Regions from separate parts of the Homo sapiens genome. Here region 1 is linked to region 2. A link means that fine-mapping ties the variant in region 2 to the plasma level of a protein whose gene starts in the linked region. Region 2 holds a variant in brackets. A gene starts in the other region. All regions are shown on their reverse strands.

Region 1 (14,347 bases), not on the chromosome of region 2:
GGGACAAAAATGGCACCATAGGGTCTTTTCATATGGTATACCCCTTCAAATACAAATGGAATGTATCTATGGAATTAGAATTTCAATTGAAGACTTTTGCTTGCCTGAGGGCTTAACAAGTCACTAGTCCCTTCATGCAGCAGTCTTTGTGCTTTGAATAACTCCAACTAATCTAAAATACCTTTGTAAAATTATCAATAGGGATGCAAATTTGCCTCACCATGCCACTTAAAAAACTCTTGGACTAAGTATTTTAAATTAGAAACATGTGGAAGGATGTCTATAGGAATTACATATATAAGAAAGGTCTAGATTCTGACATCTATAGCTAATCACAAATTGATTCTTCAAAGGGAGTAACTGGGAAAACAGCATATTTCTTCCTAGCCATGATGCTTCAATTCAGTAGCAATCATGAGTAGAAAAAGAGGAATGATAATTCACTCCCTTTGTCCTCAAAGACAAGGAGATAGATTCTTTGAAATAACTGCCCACAGATGGTCTAGGCTTAGACATTGGCCGGATGACTAACGTTGGCCAGGATAAACAGGATACTCCCGCTAGCCCACGCCTTGGGTGGGCTTCAACCCCAAGGCTAGCTGCCCGAGGCCTTAGTCACTATCACTGCCTCGGGTAACCCATATTCATTTTGACTCAAACATTTTATTTAGGCTGTCCAGTCAGATAGCTGTGTAATGTTGTAGTAGTATTCTTGAACACCTCAGGTTAAACATAGGGGAAGACATTCAGTCATTGTGAAGAAAACTTAGAAGAGAAATGTAAGAAAGCTTCAGGTAAGATGTTTTTGTCCAAAGTCCAGGGCTTAAAGGTGTCAAATTGAAAAGGAGTAAAAGGAGAAGACCTGGAGTTAAATATTAACTCTACCTGTCATTAATATTGTCACTCTGGGAAAATTAATGCCATCTTTAAGGTTCAGTTTCTCTGCCGTAAAATGGGAAACCTATGACCTTCCTTAAAGGAGAAGCTGGAAGATTAAATGAGAAAATATTAATATATTTTAATGAATCTACAGTTCCTGGGACATAGTAGGTGCTTTTAAAGATAAATTTAAGCAAAAGTAATTCTCCCCTCACTTTAATTTTCCTTGGTTTGCCTTGGTATAACTATAAATCTTTTTGAGTAGCCTGCAAGAGGAAAACATGGCTTTTTGTCCTCCTAATTTCTTGTAGGACAATTCAAAGAAGATTTAGATGATGAGAAAGAAGAGAAGGTGGTACAGAGGATGAGGGAAACACAAAGGGAAATTGTGCTGATAAAAACAAAATTTGGGAAAAGAAAATGATCCCTTAAGAGTGTTGCAAGTCTGCTTTAAAAGAAAACAAGCAGATTTATTACTGCAAAGATGATAAGGAAAGCAAATAGTAATAATCATAATAGAAAGGGGGGTCTGTTGATCTATCTTGAACTTCAAAAGCAGTTGAGGATACTTTTAATATTAGATTAGTTAAGCCATATTTTCCTTTCTTCTAGCCAGCCAGCAATACTTTTTGATGTTCACTGTTAAGTAGTGGGCTGAGACTATCCACCTCTTTTACAAAGGCTAGTAGCCAAGGAAAGGACTGCATTTGAAACAATGATCACAAAGTGAAAGGCTCCTTCTCCCATGACCTTTGAAATAAGAAGGTCACTATCTGAGAAAGGAGGGTCTGTAGCTGTGTCTTGACCTCTTTACTATGATTTGTCACAATGGGGACAACAGCCTTCATATCCTACAAATGATTTCAAGAGAGAGAAAAATGACACCTTATTGACTCTAAGATATGGACAAAGATAGTGTTGCTGTCCATGTTCTTAGGGGATACCCCTTGCTCTCCAGATTGTTTCACATTCCACCAGTGTGACTCAATAGAACAGTATGAGTTTGACCATCTGTTCTTGGCTAACAACAATATTATTTCCTTAGTGTTTACAACTCAGTTATGTACAATAGCTATTTCTTTTTACCTTGACACTCCGCTTAGGACTGCACTTTGCCTCTTTCGAGGCTGTTAGCATGATAACAACCAAATATTGAAAAGTAAAATATGAATACCTGCACCTATTGAAGGCCTGGGGATTTATTTGGTTTCCTTGAATTCCATGATATTCCTGTATACTTGCCCTAGCCAGTGATTTCCAAACTCTGTCCCCTCTTCTTTTTGATTACCATTAGAGCTTGGTTTTTCAAACTATGGCAATAACAGATACAATAGTACTGCTCTAGTTGAGCAAGTTTAGAAAGAAGAACCTGTTCATTATCTCTTTTGCCAGCCACGAAGACATCTCTGATATGAGGCTAGGAAACTTGTGCTAGTAATTTTTTATCACAGAAGCACACTGAAGATGAAAAAGTCTTGCCATCATTATCTATAATAGCTCAGAGAATTTCTAAAGCAGTAGGGGGATCAAGACAGAAGCCAGTGGCGATTCCTCATGTAAGGAAAAGGAAACTGAGGGGCAGAGAAGATTTCTAGATCAAGGTTGTACTGTTTATTAGTGGTAAAGCCAGACTAAGCCCCTGACCTCCCATCTCCCAGTGAAATGATCTTTTGTTGTGGTGGTTCAAAGGTTACTAGGGCTTCTCTTTCTTTACGGCTGTTTCTGGCTAGTTACTCCCTCTGAGTTCAGAGTCAGACAAACACTTCTAAGATTTTGGAAAATCTTAGATTTCAATAAGGAAATAGCAGCTTTACTTCAAAGGAAAAGGCCACAGAGAGCCAACTAAAGTCCATTTCTGCAGGTCACACTTCTCTTAACTCCCCATCCTCCAGATCCATTCCCCAGGAAAGTCAGACTGACAAAGTGTGTCTTCTTCTAGAGCAGAGCCTTAGCAAAACCCTCTACCCTCAGCCTCAGCAGGTAAACCCTTCTCAGATTAGCAGCTGATACACTGGGGAGGTAAAAGTTACCTGATGCTAGAAGAATAAAATGTAATGAAAAGTGTCTCATTTCTTGGTTGGAAAAACAGAGTATTGATATATATCTTCATAACCTAGAGATAGCAAGGTCGTATTTCTCAAGATGAGGTAGTGGGAAAAGTGGAAAGAGAAGAGGATGACTCTAAGACAGACTACTGACTTCATTTATTTATTTATTTCTTTTTTTCCTAACACAGTCTTTATTCCTGCTGTGGTCTGTGGACGTTTACTTTGACTACTAATGATATCTCCAGTCCTGCCATATATATATATATATATATATATATATATATATATATATATATATATATATATATTTGTTACTTGTCAGCCATTCTCAATACACAATGAGTATTTAGGTAGAAGAAAGCTTTCTGAACTTCAGGAAATCATGCTCAATTATCTGCCACTAAAATACTGAAATGTTCCAGGAAAAGTCTTAAAATAACTTTGCACATATGCCTCTGTGTGTGTGTGCATGCACGTGTGTGTGTGTGTTAGGATCAAAACAGAAAAATAAAGAGCAAGAAAACGTAGATTTTTTTTTTTGGTGGCAAAAATATGTCCCCATGGTTCCCGCCCCTTTGAGTGTTAAGTGGCTAGCTAAAGGAGTAGGTTGCTTTAAAATCTTATTTCACTTAAAAACATTTAGTAGTGACACCCCCTCCCCCAAATTATCATTGTTAACCACCAAGTGTATTCTTTAGTAAGAATTTGTGGTAATACTCTTCATGCATGCAGCAGCAATGGGCACTCCTTCTTAAGGTTTAAGAAAACATGAAAACCACAAAGAATGTCTGAAATTATTTTCTCTTGGTTGGCGGAACAGATGCCTTTCATCAAGGAAAATGCCTTTGGCCAAAACAAAGCCATATTCATTTAAAATATATTGTTTAGTAATTGCACAGACTCTGGATTATATAAAATTTACTTTCAATGCAAAGATTTCATTTTTCTAGAAAAGGTTAACAAGCAAAATAGAGCAGGAAGACAGGCAGAGGATAATGTGTTAAAAGAATCAACTACGTCAAGGGCAAGAGCAGTTCAAGAAATGACAATGCAAGTACATTGAAAGGAAATTGGCCAATGTGGATGTGATTTTGTCTAGGGGTCATTCAGGAACACCTGGCTGACTTTATTTATAAGGCGATTGTCAAATCAATCTGTAGAATATGGATGAGGTGAAACGCAGAGGTAGAGTATTATTCTAGATCATCTGTAACTTTTCAAATACAACTATCGCACTGAAATTCCAGGGAGAATGTAAGTGACTCCAATAAAGAAACCTGTCAGTCAGTCAAGAGTGTTTATTTATTATCCCCCTGTGCCAAGCAATATTCTAGCCAATATGAAATGATACAAAATAAAGAGTAGTCATCACCCTTCCAATCTCCTGAGAGCAAATGGATTACATTTGCAGACACACACACACACACACACACACACACACACACACACACCCCACCTCTATGTGGGTGGTCAGGAAACTCAACTATATGGACATATAACAATTTCATTTAGAAAAGTGCTGATTAGAAAACTAAACTTACAAAATTAGAAAAACTGGAGAATAATGAATTTTATGAAAAATAGATTACAATGGATTCATAAGGCATGCCCTTTATTTAAGTCCCATTATGTTATTAAAATTGGGAATAACCCTTCACCCTCACAAATTTACAAAATATTTTTGGAACACATTATGCAAATATGGAGTCACACTGGTGTTGTGGAGCTGCTAACTCGAATAAAATACCATACTTGATAAAAAACCTTCTGTCCACTAAACTGTAAATGCCTTAAAGTCAAAGATCAGGCCTTATTTGCCTTTAGTGTATATTTAGTACTCTGTAGATAGAAGTGGTAAAGGGATAAGAATGAATGAATGAGACAGGCGGGTGAAATTTTCAAGAATGAGACAGATGGGTGAAGTTTTCAAAGGTTTCTAAAAGGGAAAAACAAGAAGACTAGGATATTCCAAGCAGAAAGGTCTGGTTGGTTGGCCCCAGTTGGTGTTCGCATATAAGAAGAGGGCTTGGCATTTTCCTCACCACTGAAGAAGGATCAGCCCCTGGTTTGGTCCAGTAAGAATATGTTCTTGCCCAAATGCCACTCCTTAGTTTCAGGGACATTGCTATTTTGGTTTTCTGTTCCAGCCCAAGTGTTCTTGATGGTCGAATTGTTTGCATTGACTTTTTTTCCACAAGAAGTTGGGTGATATTGCTGATTTGCCTGCCATGGCACTTCCTTGTTTTCATTTTGATTATTACTCAAAAATAGCTTCATTTTAAAATTCAACTTTTCTGACTCTCTGCTTGTGCCTTTAACACATTGACAATGATTTTCTGCTTCTCCACAAAGAAAGCACGTTGGATCCTGTCACAGACATATTTAGCAGACATGGAACCACCATAAGCCCTGCTTGGCATGTGTGTTTCATTTCAGACTACCTCATGAGAACTTTAGGTCTTAAAGCATCGGCCTCTCTCTCCAAGTCAGCCTGAACACAAGCCACAAGAGATTTCAGTTCTTTCTCGACCTTTTTGGTGTAAATGTAAACAATTCTATCACCAGGGGTTCAGGGCAGCCTAGTTTTGTTAGAGGCTGTATTGTAGGAAAGTCCAAGGTTGCAGGATCATTCTGAGTCCCTTAGACACCATTCTCAGAAGAGCTTGCTATTAGCTTAATGCTGCCCAACTACTACGTATGCTTCACGAGGGCAGGGACTTTTGTCTGTTTTCACTGCTACGGCTCCAACCTCTAAACAGTGCCCGACATAGTAGGCATTCAGTAAATATAGTACTTGTTAAATGGATGTTATTTTGGCTGCCTTTACTTTTGCTTTATTTGTCCTGCTTTACGGAGCTGGAAATTGGAGGAAAGCCTTTGAATTCATTTCCCTTCTTCCTTCTGTTCTGAAACTCTGGCCAAGGGTCCTAGCAAAGACCTTAGGGAGTGGGGAGCCCTCCTGGAAACTAATGACAAGTCAGGCGACAGGGGGCGGGAGAAGGAGAGCTGCAGGAAGTTCTTTCCCACTTACTTCTGCAGCACCCTTCACCACCCATCGTGCTCTGTATTTGGGGTTAGAGGTGTTCCGTGGAAGGGAAAGCAGGGGCCGCCTTGGCCGCGTTCCTCTCCTGGGCCACCGGGGTCTTGCCCACAGCGAGTCCCGCAGCACCCCCTGTCTGCGCAGCACCTGTTGACAGCCAGTGGGCGGCCAAGCCCGCTCGCGCGGACGCGTCCCAGGGCTGCCCCTCCCAGAGGCGCTGACCCCCGCCCGCCCCATCGGCCGCCTGCGGGAGAGCCGCTGAGCCGCCCCCGCTCGCCAGGCGCGCGCTCCGCCCGGGCTCGGCCCACGGCCCCCACCTCCTGTCTGCCGCCCGGCGGGGGGAAGGTAGAGAAGGGGAGGGGACAAGCCGGATCCTCCCGGCCGCCCCGGCCTTCCCTCTTCACCCCGTGCGGAGACGCCGCGCGTAGCCCCGAGGTTAGCGCGGAGCCCGAGGCGTGGGGGGAGGGGACGGGGAACAACCGGAGCCCCGCGGTGACCCCGAGCGGCCGAATTGCCCCAGGCTTTGAGGAGCGGGGGACGAGCCCGAACAAGGTGAACTTTGGTCGCGGAAAACTCAAGCCAGGTGCCGGAATCCGTGCTGCGGCGCTCCGAACCCGGGGCCAACTGCGCTCCGGGCTGAGGAGCGGGAGCCCCGCGGCCTCTCTCCGCCTGCGCCCGGGCCGCCGTCGGCCCGGAGCCCCCCGGCCCCGCTCCGGCGCCCCGGCCCGTGGGACCCGCCGCGGCGCCCTCGCCTTGTTTCTTCCCCCTCCCCCTTCGGGGGTGGGGGGTGGGGCGGGGGAGAGGGGCGCCCGGAGAGCCGCATCTATTGGCAGCTTTGTTATTGATCAGAAACTGCTCGCCGCCGACTTGGCTTCCAGTCTGGCTGCGGGCAACCCTTGAGTTTTCGCCTCTGTCCTGTCCCCCGAACTGACAGGTGCTCCCAGCAACTTGCTGGGGACTTCTCGCCGCTCCCCCGCGTCCCCACCCCCTCATTCCTCCCTCGCCTTCACCCCCACCCCCACCACTTCGCCACAGCTCAGGATTTGTTTAAACCTTGGGAAACTGGTTCAGGTCCAGGTTTTGCTTTGATCCTTTTCAAAAACTGGAGACACAGAAGAGGGCTCTAGGAAAAAGTTTTGGATGGGATTATGTGGAAACTACCCTGCGATTCTCTGCTGCCAGAGCAGGCTCGGCGCTTCCACCCCAGTGCAGCCTTCCCCTGGCGGTGGTGAAAGAGACTCGGGAGTCGCTGCTTCCAAAGTGCCCGCCGTGAGTGAGCTCTCACCCCAGTCAGCCAAATGAGCCTCTTCGGGCTTCTCCTGCTGACATCTGCCCTGGCCGGCCAGAGACAGGGGACTCAGGCGGAATCCAACCTGAGTAGTAAATTCCAGTTTTCCAGCAACAAGGAACAGAACGGTGAGTCTTTCCCCCATTCTCCCCCTGCTTGTTTCTCGCTGTGTGTGTTAACGTTGGCATTGTGCGTTGGTATGTGATATATACCAGACTGTGAAGGTATCTTTGGTCTCTCATTACATGCAAATGTGCGCTGCGTTCATTGGCATGGACTGTTAAAGGTTAAGTGTAGTTTGCAACTTCGGGAGCTGCCACAAAGCTCCAAGAGGGCAACGTGAGTGCCACTGCTGAGTGAGGACATTCTGGGAGCGATTGTGAACGTCATTTCAAATGCACATTGCAGGTTCGCTCATTGCTAAAGTTAGAAGTTCAAGAACTGCCTCTAAAAACGAATCCAAAATGAATGAGCCTTGGCATGTTTGACTTTACTCAGATTTGGGGAGGGCGAGGGGGGTCGGTCAGGAAATATATCAGCCGCATTAATTGAAGCACTCTAGGTCGAAGTCATCAATTAATCAATGAGTAGATAGGAAATATAGAGGTCAAGAGGCTGTGTGGTCGTTTTTAGAGGAATTAAAAAGTGTATTTCTCTTGCTCCCTAGTTTTTGTTTTTTAAACTTGCCTTTGTACTCTGAAGTCCTTACCTTTCTGGTGGTGTGTTTTTGTATGTGTTGGTGAATGACTGCTATTTTGTGTGTGCTGGAAACGACTTAATCCTGCATAGGAAATGAGAATTACTTTCAGCTTTCAAGTGTACCTGAAATGTTTAGAAAACTCTCAGATGCAAGTTCCCTTGGGCTGGGATTGCACAGAGCTGGAGAAAGGCTCCTTTCATAAAGCCAGGGCAGCTTCAGGGTGTGTAATTTGCTTAGCCTCTGAACCCATATGATTTACATCATTCAATTTCTAAACTCTTTTTCTCTTCATCTACCATTATGAAGTCATTTTTGAGAATACTTTGTAAATAGAAATTTTATACTGCACATGAAACCACAATGTTCATGTTAGGCTGTCTAAAATTGGAATATTTAACGCCCTGTTTACAAATGGTGGCTCTTACTGTAATTTGAAAAGGAATATACATGTTTTTACTGCTTTGTATATCATCTATTCAGAATGCAAGGATTCTGTCACTTGATTAACCATGCAAAATGAACACAAGTGGCATACCTACAAAATTAAGATAGGATGTGCTATAGTTTTAAGTCAGAGTGATTTTTTTTCCTTTTCATATTGGGGTGTTTCAAGACTTCAACTTTGAATTTAAACTCTATGAAGTGTTCATGTTTAAGAAAGCACAGAAAGTTTTAGGGTATAAAAGTAGATAAAATAAGGATTCTGCCGACTTTTGCAAACGTTATTTGTATTTGCTGTTGCGCAGCAAGACATAGTATCACATTTATCAGCTAATATTAGTGTGGTGCTTCTTACAACTTGCTAATGTGATGCCACATGGCACCTGCAGGCTCCTTGAGCTGCTGATCAAAGGGCAGCCTAGGGATGTATCTCTAATCACAGTAGCTGCAGAGGTCTGGGGGAAAGTGATCAAAGGAGCCACAGCACCAGCTGTACCCGTGCAGGAAACACATCAGACCAACCTTTGTTCTTTCTCATGTAAAATAAATGTCCAGTTCAAAATATTGCTTCTTACTAGCCAAGCTCCTCCATAATGACAACAATGCACAATATTCCTGGCTTCCTGGCTTCTGTTTTTTATTGTTCCTGTCCCATATCATTTCTCCTATTGCCTTGTCTTATCAAGCCTCTCTTGGCATCTGCCCGAATCTCTTTGCTGACCTGTGCTTCTCTTTGTCCTTTCCTTTTAGTTCTCTCTTGTGATCCCCATGCTATCATCACTTTGTAAGGGTCCCAGAGCTGTCATGCAGCATGTGGTCATAGGCCACTTTACCCAAGTAGATTCACACCTCCAGGAGAGATGAGTTCATTAAGCCAGGCCACACACATTCTGTTGCCATCTGAGGCTGGGCCATTTCCATTCCTAAGATGCATGATGCTAAAAATTGCTGCTTGTTTCCTAATCTGTGGGTAGAGGATTAGGCTATGTTTGGGGGTTGGTCTATGTTAAGGATGGCAGCAGGAAGTAACTAGAAGTAGAGGAACTACTTGTAGTTTTTAGCCCAAGGAGAAGTGGCACTGGCCAGCACTAGGGGGCAATATAGAGCTATTTTCTTGCACATGCTCAGGTTGATTTTTATACGTAAATGTTTCAAGATTTGAGGGTAACAGGTGGGTGCTGAAGAAGATTCCCCTGGAATGTAACCAGATTTGTTAGAGCTACTACCATTACCGTTACTACTACTACTTCTACTTCTTCTTCTTTTTGTCTTTCAAATTTTCCATTATGTGGGTAATCTTTTGCCCACATACTGAATTATGATTGAATTTTGATTGCCCTGTTGCTGTCTCAATTTTGACAGTTGTACAGTCCTGTAAATACGAACCCTCCTTGAGGATACCACGTAGAAGATCCCATTGGCCCAGTTTGTGCATTGCATCGTTTTGTGACAGGTCTTCTCTAACTCTGAAATGTCCAAATTGATATATTATGACTGTAGCAGCTCATTCTTGTCTCCAAGGACCCCTCCTCATGATACTCTCTTTTCTTGAGTATTCTAAAGTCCCTAATGGTGATTACTCAATCAGGTACCTCGGGCTGCTCAGTTTTAATATTAACTTGGTATTTCAAGAGGAGGTAGAATTGGAAATTGATTGCTGTAGCCAATGCTGCATACATGGATTTAGACTGGATCATGTGGACATGGTTCAGAATTAGCTTTGAAGGGTTAGTGTCATTTACACTATTGTTAGGTATCTGGTTTTTGACCTACCATTGGATTGCAATTCTTGCCACTTTTACTGTACAAAGTTTTATCCTCTAATATTATAAGTTGACTTCATATACTATACTTAATTTTTAACCTTACTTCTGACCCTGTCTCACTTATGAAAACAAGAGTCTTCAGATTTAACTTGAGGAAAGAGATTAAAAGATAACATTGACTTGCTTGGAGGGTGTCTGGCCTGTATACTTGTTGTATGACCATGGTGAAAAATACTCATATTTTGTGCACACTGGTTTTAGATGAGAATGCCTATTGTGGAATGATTAAGTTCTGGGACGGTGCTTCTGAGTTGTAGCAGAAAGAATCATACACCCAGGAACAAAACAAAACCTACTTTGTCTGTTGCATACAGCACAAAGAGATGTCAATGACAAAGTTGTTGGTGGAGGAATGCCTCTTCTACCTGTGTTGTTGGTGAGTGATTTTTAGTTTACTCATAGATTAAGAGCATGCGTATCATTTTTTTCTCATTTTCTTTAGCCATTCTGAATTTTGATTTGGAATATGCCGCTCTTCGCTACGGTTGGTCTTATTAACATCAGTTATTGTATGTGTTCTTTTTCTCAAGGGCTTTTGTGGCATGTGGGGCAATTTACTTTGGTCTGCTGGTCGTGCCCTTTTGCCGGTATCTTGTGTTTATGGATTTTCCATCTCTTTTTATCAGTGCCAGCTTTCTCTTCCTACTGTCAATGCTCCTGTATCTAACAAAATTTAAATTAAAAATGGAAAATTAAAAAAGGTGCCCAGTCCCCTCGCCATCATTTTTAGGTGGCAGCTTCAAATCTCTGTTTTATCAAAAACAGATAACCACAATATTTAGAACAGTGTCCAAGAGTAAATAGGCTCTAACTGCAGACTAAAGGGACTTTCCTGTAAGTTTCCCTGTAAGTTTTATTGCGTGACCTTTTTGACATTTATTTTTGTTGTTTAAAGGCTTTTTTACAAAAAAAAAAAAAAAGAAAAAACTTCCTCCTGGTTCTCTGCTGTTTGAAATAGTTGAGGAAGTTGAACAAGTACAGTGCCATTATGTAATGATGAATTTTGTCTTTTCACAGTAGGTGATTAAAAAGCTCTATTATGTGGTAATTTTTCTTCCATATCAATTTTAATCATAGATATTGGATGGATGATATACTTTGCTTTTACCACTGAAAGGTGTTTAGAAAGTACAGAGGTTTGTAGGAAGCCTCAGGGACTAATATATCGTTTGTTAAATAGTTGTAAATAGAGGATGGGATTGGACATTAAACTTCCCTCAGTGCTGCCATCTCTTCTACGACCTCTAGTTCTGTCTCAGGCACGGAAGCCTTAGCTTTGTCTACTTGTATTTCACCCTTCCTGAAACTTATTTCTTAAATATCTTCTGTATATTAGCTTCCACTTCATGTTTTTTTCAAGCTTTAGACTGATAAGGTTCTAAGTTTTATCTATAAACTTTTGCACCCTTTGTGGAAACAAAATTCTAATGATAAAGTGATATGTTGAATAAGTAATAACAAATTAAGACATTCATAAATTTCATAGTAAAAAAAAAAAGTTTCCAAGACTGATGATATTTTCCCCGTAGGTTTCTGTTTGTATCAACCAAAATGGTAGAAGTCATAAAGTCCCTTCATTTACTTACTCTGATTTTCATGTTTCTAATTTGGAAGCATTATACGTAATCAGAATATATAACTCTGTGTAACTCTATGTAATCTCTATATAACTCATTTATTAAGCAATCTCTGTTGCTTCTTGATCTTTTGGGTAAGATCAGTTGTAAACAATCTGTATGTTGTATTATTTTTCACCACCACTGCCTCCAACTATGATTTTATTTTTCAAATCTCCCATTTTTTAAATCTCCTAAGGAGACATCTAATATTTGATAATCATTTAGTATGCACCAGTGTTAGTTCCATACTGATTACCAAAATGTTGAAATGTTGAAATATTTCCAATGAGTTGGGAAGAGACTAGTGCAACTCCTCTAAGACAAATGGACCAACACGTGATGAAGCAGAAATTCCAATGCCTGGTACTGCTTAAGGCCTCTGAGATACTTCTGCAACCCTGCTGGCCTCTGTCCTGATCGATCAGTGTTCCTGCCGTACTGATTGTTAAGCATTTTGACACTTTTAGCTGTGGACAATTTTAGTTCATATTGGGGTTAAAATTTCTATCTTTTTTCCTCTCTGCTTGGCAGCTCAGGCCTGACCCATGACTTGAAGGACCTGGAGTAAGAAGGGGTATGGCTTCTTTCAAGCTCCCTTCCTGCAGCTCTTTTGGCTTTAGCTCCTCAAGGGTTATGGCTGGGGGAGTGATGAGATGGTGGACATGGCACACTCAGCATACAATTGCAACTTCCAGTCATTTGCCCCTGCCTCTCTGGCTAACACTAACCAGCTGCTCTTGCATGGATAACACCTTCCCTTCATCTAGATTAAATGATTCACTTCCTCAGAGAGGTCTTTTTTCTGACCACTAAGTCTAAATTAACCACCCCTCACTGTCTTGTCAAGGTTAATTAATTAATTATGTAGTACTTAATACTCCTTGATATTCTTGTTTATTAATTAATTAATTTATTATCTACCAACATCCCTCACCCCCACCATAAAATCTAAGTTGTTGAGAGCGTGGACCTTGTTTGAATCGCTTCCTGTAGGAACTCCAGCACCTGAGACAGGTATGGCAGAGTGTGCCCGATGAGTATCTGTTGAAAGGTTCTGGAGGTAGTTAGTATCTTATTAAAGAAAGACTATGCTGTTAACTCTAACAACAGGCCATCTTTTAAGATATCTTTTTGGTCTTGGAGCTTGCACACTACTTGACTTCTTAAATAGGAAGATAGCTTGTTCATGTATTGGTAGTGATGGTTGTGCCAATCAGAGTACCACGTTTTACTCTTGATAAAGATTATGTTACCAAGTGAGCAGGTACCAGGCAAATGGATAGGTTTCCTAGAACTGGTTACTCTTTTAAGTGTCATTGCTGTGCATAGCCTTACATTTTCTGAAGATGGGGACTGTCATGTGATGCAGACCAAGGACTCTTGAAAATGTTGCATAGATGACAAGCCTCCAAAATCTGTGTACTTTCTATATTTTACCTGTGGCTCAAGGATAACTTGCACAGGCTAGAACTCAGCAACATGTGTGGTATGAGGAATGTTAGAGTTGGAAAGACCCCAGGAACTTATCCTCACTGATGTGCAGATTGAGGCCTAGAGAGCAGAAGTTGACTTGACTTTGTCAAGGCCACTAGACAGCCACTATTAAACTGCTAATGTGGTGATACATTTTTCCTTATGTGAGAACCAATTAGGAAAATGGAATCCTGGTTTCAAAATTCACATACTTTTTATAAAAGCATTTCTTTATTATGTTAGTGGATTGCATGGTTTTCAGATTGGGAGATGAGGTAAGAATCTGTTGCTTCGGAAATATTTACGGGAACAGTAAGGGAAACAATCTCATAATAATCACATTAGTCAAATGGAATGGTATATATATATCACTATATATATACTGTATATATATGTACTATATATACAGTATATATAGTATCACTATATATATACTGTTATATATATATCACTATATATATATATAGTGATAACTTCTGTTTCTGTAGGCATCTGACAAATTGGCAAATAACTGGAAATACTACCTTTATAATGGTTACCATTATGTTAGAACTGTACTTTAAGCAAGTATATAGATGAAGGATGTTTATTTTAATATTTTGGCTTATTCAGTGATGGTGATGAATAATATGGCTGACATTGGCATGCTTGGTTCCACAAGGAAACTTTCTGGTAATAATTTTAACATTTCATTTAACAGTACATCTCAATGATAAAAGTACCATAAAAATGAATAAATAAGCATGTTTAGTGAACGCTAGAAAGTATAACCTATTATTTTTGAAATATATTCAGTGAGTGACCTTAACTTTTATTTACACTATATTCTATGGGATATTCTATTCAGAAGTTCAAGTTTTTTTTTTTTTTTTTGGTCAAGACCGTCAGAAAATAAATTCATAGCTATAAACTTGAATGGCTTGCCTAAAATATTATTAATTTACCTTTTTAAACTTTGGTTTGCAAAGTTCCCAAATCTGAAAACAAAGGGAGCTAAAAATTATAAAGGGGAACTATAATAACTACGTTTATA
Region 2 (5,167 bases):
AGCCCTAGAGTATGGCTGCCCAAGGCCAAGGTGGGTGCGGGGCTGCAGCAACATTAGTAAACGTGTGAGTCCACAGATTTCCTAGAGAGGCCTCCCGCAGAGGAATCTCATGTCTTCATTCAATTCCTATCCCTCTGAGTGCCAAGACTTACTTCAGTAGGACCCAGCCACAAACCTAATGATGAAGCACCTTTGAGGGTCCCCAGGCTGGCATGGGATGTATGTTGTGGCGGGGAGAGTTGGGGTGAAGGATGCCGGGTGAAGGCAAACATGGATTCAGTTCCACTGAGTGTGGCAACAGCTATGTCAGAGCCAAAGTTCATTGGGGCCCCAACCCAGCCCTGGACGCAGGCACATTTCCAAAAAGGGACATCCAAGTTGAATGTCTATTTCCAGTAAATATACTACTCGAAGCATCTCCCAACATCTCAAACAGGAAACTGTCTCCC[T/G]GTTTTTCCCCATTCCCTGCCATCTGAGCAGGCAGCTTGCTTCTCTTTCACCAATATGCCCCCAATCCTGGAGCAGTGCCCAGCACTTCAAGGGCACTCGGTGTATACTGTGGAATGAGTGATTCCGTGGCCCATTTGCGTTCCTACCTTATGGGTCAAGTCTTTATTTGTATGAATAAATACTTTCAGAAAGTATTCTTTTTTTTTTTTTTCTCGGAGATGGAGTTTCGCCATTTTGCTCTTGTTGCCCAGGCTGGAGTGCAATGGCTCGATCTTGGCTCACCACAACCTCCCCTGCTGGTTTCAAGCAATTCTCTTGCCTCAGCCTCCCGAGTCGCTGGGATTACAGGTATGTGCTACCACGCCTGGCTAATTTTGTATTTTTAGGAGAGATGGGGTTTCTCCACGTTGGTCAGGCTGGTCTCGAACTCCCTACCTCAGGTGATCCGCCCACCTCGGCCTCCCACAGTGCTGGGATTACAAGCATGAGCCACCGCGCCTGGCCTTCCAGAGCGCCTTTCAACAGTGAACAGCAGCTGCTGTTTAGGGAGCACCAGCTGGACCCTGATTCTTACGCTAAACACTGGGCATTGTCTACTTCACACAGTCCCTGTACTAGCTCTCAGGACCCTCACTCTGCCCCCTTTTTACTGATGAGGAGAGTGAGGTTCCACTGGGCCATCTGCCCAAACTGGTTTGGGAGAGAGCCTGGGTTTGGACTCACATTAGTTTGACTCCAAAGTCCACATTCTTTGTTATGTGTGTTTTTTGCTTCCTCTACCTCCATGATTCTTTTTCTCTTGACCTCTGGTTTCTTCCTCACGTGGCTTTTCCTTCCATGTTCCCCACTTCTCGTCTCCCTTGCTTCTCCCTGCCCTGCCCATCACGACTCATTTCTGTTTCATTTTTCAGCGGATCCTCCTCAGTATGGTTGAAAATGGTGTCTTACTGAAAGTAACATTGAAATGGGGAAACTTCTTTTAGGTTCTGAGCCTTCAGTTCCAGGCCACTGTGGGACCCCAGAGGCTGTCCTGTCCACTTGCCTTCTGAGGACATCAGCTCGGTGTCCCCAGCCTCCGTGCTGTGGGCACAGCAGTGGTTTGGGTGCTGAGCAAAGGATGCTGTAGTCTTGGCCCTGTGGAGCTTGGCTGTTGGGACAGGAGGTACAAAGGGGAGTGGTGCCTGAGGACACAGGACTGGACCCTGGGGTGTCAGAGCCTCAGGCTCATGGTCTTATCACCCTGTATGGTGTACGCAGCTGCACATACGGAATAGATGGAACAACTCAGGCCCAACTTTTCTGCCACGGGAGGAGTGCTGCTTCCCTCACGTAACAAGAGGCTGTCAATCATGAGCCCCCAGGTCTGGGTGAGGCCGGCCCTTCGTGGCTTGTGCCACTGAGTGGGCTGTGCCTCGGGCTTGGCTCCACCTCAGGGCTCCACATTTGCAAGATGTCAACTGATTTCCAGGGACCAGCCTCACCCTTACGTGTTGTCTCCTTCTTCTGGGTCTCCCAGGTGAGCACCCTGAGGACACGTCCATGGAGACACCCAGCCCCTCTGGCCTGGGCCCCAAGCCCTCTGCATCACCCCAGCCCTTCCCTGCCCTGCCCTGTCCTGGCCCAGGCAACCGCCTCTTGCCTAGTTGCCCACAGCAGCCTTCACTCAGGCCTTCCTGCCTCCAGCCTGGTCCCCACAACGTGCCTCCCCCGATGGCCATGGTAATACTGGAATAAGGTCCTTGTGATAGGCACCACATGCCTGAACTCTCCCCACCCCATCCACCTTGTATTTGTCTGTTCTCACATTGCTATAAAGAACTACCTGAGACTGGGTAGTTTATGAAAAAAAGAGGTTTAATTGACTCACAGTTCCGCAGGCTTCAGAGGAAGCATGGCTGGGAGGCCTCAGGAAACTTACAATCATGGTGGAAGGCAAAGAGGAAGCAAGTCCCTTCTTCACAAGACAGCAGGAGAGACAGAGCGAAGGGGGAGGTGCTACACACTTTTAAACAATGAGACCTTGTGAGAAACAGCACCTGGGAGGTGGGGCTAAACCATTAGAAACCAGCCCCGTGATACAATCACCTCCCAGCAGGACCCGCCTCCAACACATGGGGCTGAAAATTCCATGTGAGATTCGGGTGGGGACAGAGCCAAACAATATCACACCTCCACTCCTGTTTAGGGTCTTCTGCCTCAAGGTTACTCAAATGCATCCTCTCATTTCCTTGCTTGCAGCAGAAACAGAAAAGGATTTTTTTTTATGACTAGTTGAAGTTTTATTACAATCTTGCTATTAGGAGAAAGGCCTTACAGTAGTCTCAGTTTAGAAATTCACATTTGTTTGCTTGTATTGTTTTAAATGGACACATAATGTACATATTTATGGGGAACTGTGTGATAATGTTCCCAACACAAAGAAATGGTAAATGTTTGAGGTGGTGGAAATGACCCCGATTTGATCATCACACATTGTACACAGAACAGCAGGTTGTATTATGCTCCTCATCTTTCTAGATTGGTTCAGATGCCCCTTCTAGGAAGCCTTCCCAGATTTTCGCCCTGCAGAAGAAAATGTCTTCCCACAGTGCTGGGCTCCCACAGCACTCGGTGCCTGTCATCCTCCATCCTGGCACGTGTGGGGCTCTTCCCACCAGGGACAGCGTCTTATCCAGTGCCCAGCCAGGGTTGAACTCAGGGCAGGCTTCAGAATGAATGAATGAACAAATGACTAACAGCTTAGCTGTTCCAAACACAGAAGCTTTATTGATGCAAGTGAGGGAAAAAGCTGAGGTACACATGTCGGGTTGGAGGGGCAGGATGGCCCCCAAGTCTCTGTCCTGATCCAAGGCTGTGTCCTGCTAGGATTCCCCCTCCTCCTGTTTCCTCTCCTTCTCGTGCTGCTTCTCCAGTGGCTCACACTTATCCTAGAAGGCAGCGGGGAATTGGGGTGAGGGAGAAGCAGAGGCATGGGGACAGGGTGGGAGGTCTTCCAGGGAGAGGGCAGAATGAGCTCTGGCCTGTGGAACCAGCTCAACCAGGGCTCCAACCCTGGCACTGTCACTTCCCAGCTGGGTGATCTTGGGCAAGTCATTTTCTGTCTCTGAACCTCAGCTTACTTGCCTCTACAATGGGAGCTCAGACTCTTAAGAATCACTGGCATTTACTGTGCACTTAGGACCTGCCGAGCCCTTATGCTGCAGCTCCTGAATTCCTCACAACCACCACTACTATGCAGATGATGTAACTGAGGAGCAGGGTGGCCTTGGGACCCATTCGAGGCTCCCTAGCCAGACAGTGGGGGTGCCAGGCTGTGGATCAGGTGAGCTGACTACAGTGGTTGTGTTCATAAGCCCTGTCCCAGGATCCTGGGACTGCAGATGGGGGCAGGAGGTAGTTCACACCACTGGTGGTCATCTCAGATGGCAAATGGAAGGAATTGTTTTTCTTTGAATAGTCATGGAAGTACTGCATGTATATATTTTAAAAATTGGAACCAGCTCATCGGTGCTGTGATTTCACAGGTATTGGGCACAGGGCCACACCAACGCAAGTCTTCCAAACACAGGTTTAAAGAAAAGTGTTAAGGAGCTCATTATAAAGTAATTTTCATTTGTAGCAAAAATCGGGATGGTGACTGTGGCCGTGCTGCAGTGTGGGTGACATTGAAAACCACAGTATCAATTCCCCACTGCACGGGTATTAAAAATGAGTGGGGAGTGGAGGTGGGGTGAAAGCCTGGGGTTTGGGACGCGTCTGTAGGTGGTAACTCCCCGCATTACGTCCCCTCCAATTGCCAATCCCCCAACCCCGTGGCTCACGCTGTTCCCTCCTGTTAGCTTTCAGGTCCTCCCTGGTTTCACAGGGACTTCTCCCTCCTGGGCTCTCATCCACCACCCCTGGGCCTCTGTAGAGCTCAGCTGTCCCTACAGTGAGGCAGGTGCCTAAAAGCAGAAGATCTGCCTAGCTGTGCAGCCTTGCCTGGCAGCTCTCCTGCTCTGGGCCTCTGGGGCTGCCCAAGTTGGGCCATGGACAAGGTGGGCACTGTCCAATCCCTTGCGTTTACCTTTTTCCAATCGGTGTACACGACATCTGACTTGGGAATGCGCAAGCAGTCGAGAGCTTCGTAGAACTCTCCCAGTTGCTCCTTGGTCGTCTCTGGCTTGTCAGCTGCAGGGGGAGCAAGGAGACTGACTGGGGACATGGTGGGGCCCGGCGGGAGGCCAGGGAGGGCTGGGGTTCTAGGGGCCAGCCCAGGGGTGGGTGAATGGGGGGTGAGGCCTGAGAGGGGCATGAGTTTGGGGCTGCTAAGCATGCCTACCATAGACAGACAGCCCCCAGTTCTTCTCATCGTTCACGTCAAAAGCAAGCATGTAGGTCTTGGTGTCCCTGAGGATCAGCAAGTGAGCGAAATGCTCTTGGCCTCCCACTGGAAGAGAAAAGGAGCCTCTGGGTGAGAACATGGGATGGCACAATGGTGTCTGTCTTACAGGTGAGGAGGCCTAGGTGTGTCAGTGGCCACACAGCCCATCAGTGAAGGCCCAGGGCTCCTTTGGGCCACCGTGTGCCCAGCCCCTGCTGCATGCCCAGCTCCACGCCAAGCACTTTCTGTACATGAGATCTCAGGAGCCTCACACAGACCGTGGCTGTCAGGGCCTTTCTCCGTTTTACAGATGAGGAAAATGAGGCCCAGAGAGGAGGCTCGGGATGCTAAATG

Direction of the effects. Alleles are on the strand shown, and positions count from the first base shown. The strength of an association depends on the size of the effect and on how common the allele is.
With allele G in place of T in region 2, the plasma level of the protein whose gene starts at base 6,370 in region 1 is lower (weak association).

Evidence for each region. A credible set is the group of variants that fine-mapping cannot tell apart. PIP is the chance, under the fine-mapping model, that this variant and not a neighbour inherited with it causes the effect. Protein levels are from antibody-based Olink assays in UK Biobank. Linkage for the fine-mapping came from a reference panel and not from the study's own genotypes, which makes the PIPs less certain.
Region 1: PDGFC starts here. The variant in region 2 is the best candidate, but not a certain one, in a credible set for the plasma level of the PDGFC protein (UK Biobank, PIP 0.56).

The regions. Positions count from the first base shown.
Region 1 is chr4:156,963,822-156,978,168 of GRCh38, reverse strand. It overlaps PDGFC (platelet derived growth factor C), which reads left to right and starts at 6,370. Exons shown (of 6, transcript NM_016205.3): 1 at 6,370-7,383. The coding sequence starts at 7,266. RefSeq lists an enhancer at 6,083-6,583.
Region 2 is chr9:114,324,502-114,329,668 of GRCh38, reverse strand. It overlaps ORM1 (orosomucoid 1), which reads right to left. Exons shown (of 6, transcript NM_000607.4): 4 at 4,772-4,879; 5 at 4,517-4,620; 6 at 3,190-3,377. The coding sequence ends at 3,312. Among named protein-coding and RNA genes, the nearest start is that of ORM2, 2.8 kb to the left of the region's middle. The variant T/G (reference allele first, on the strand shown) is at 450.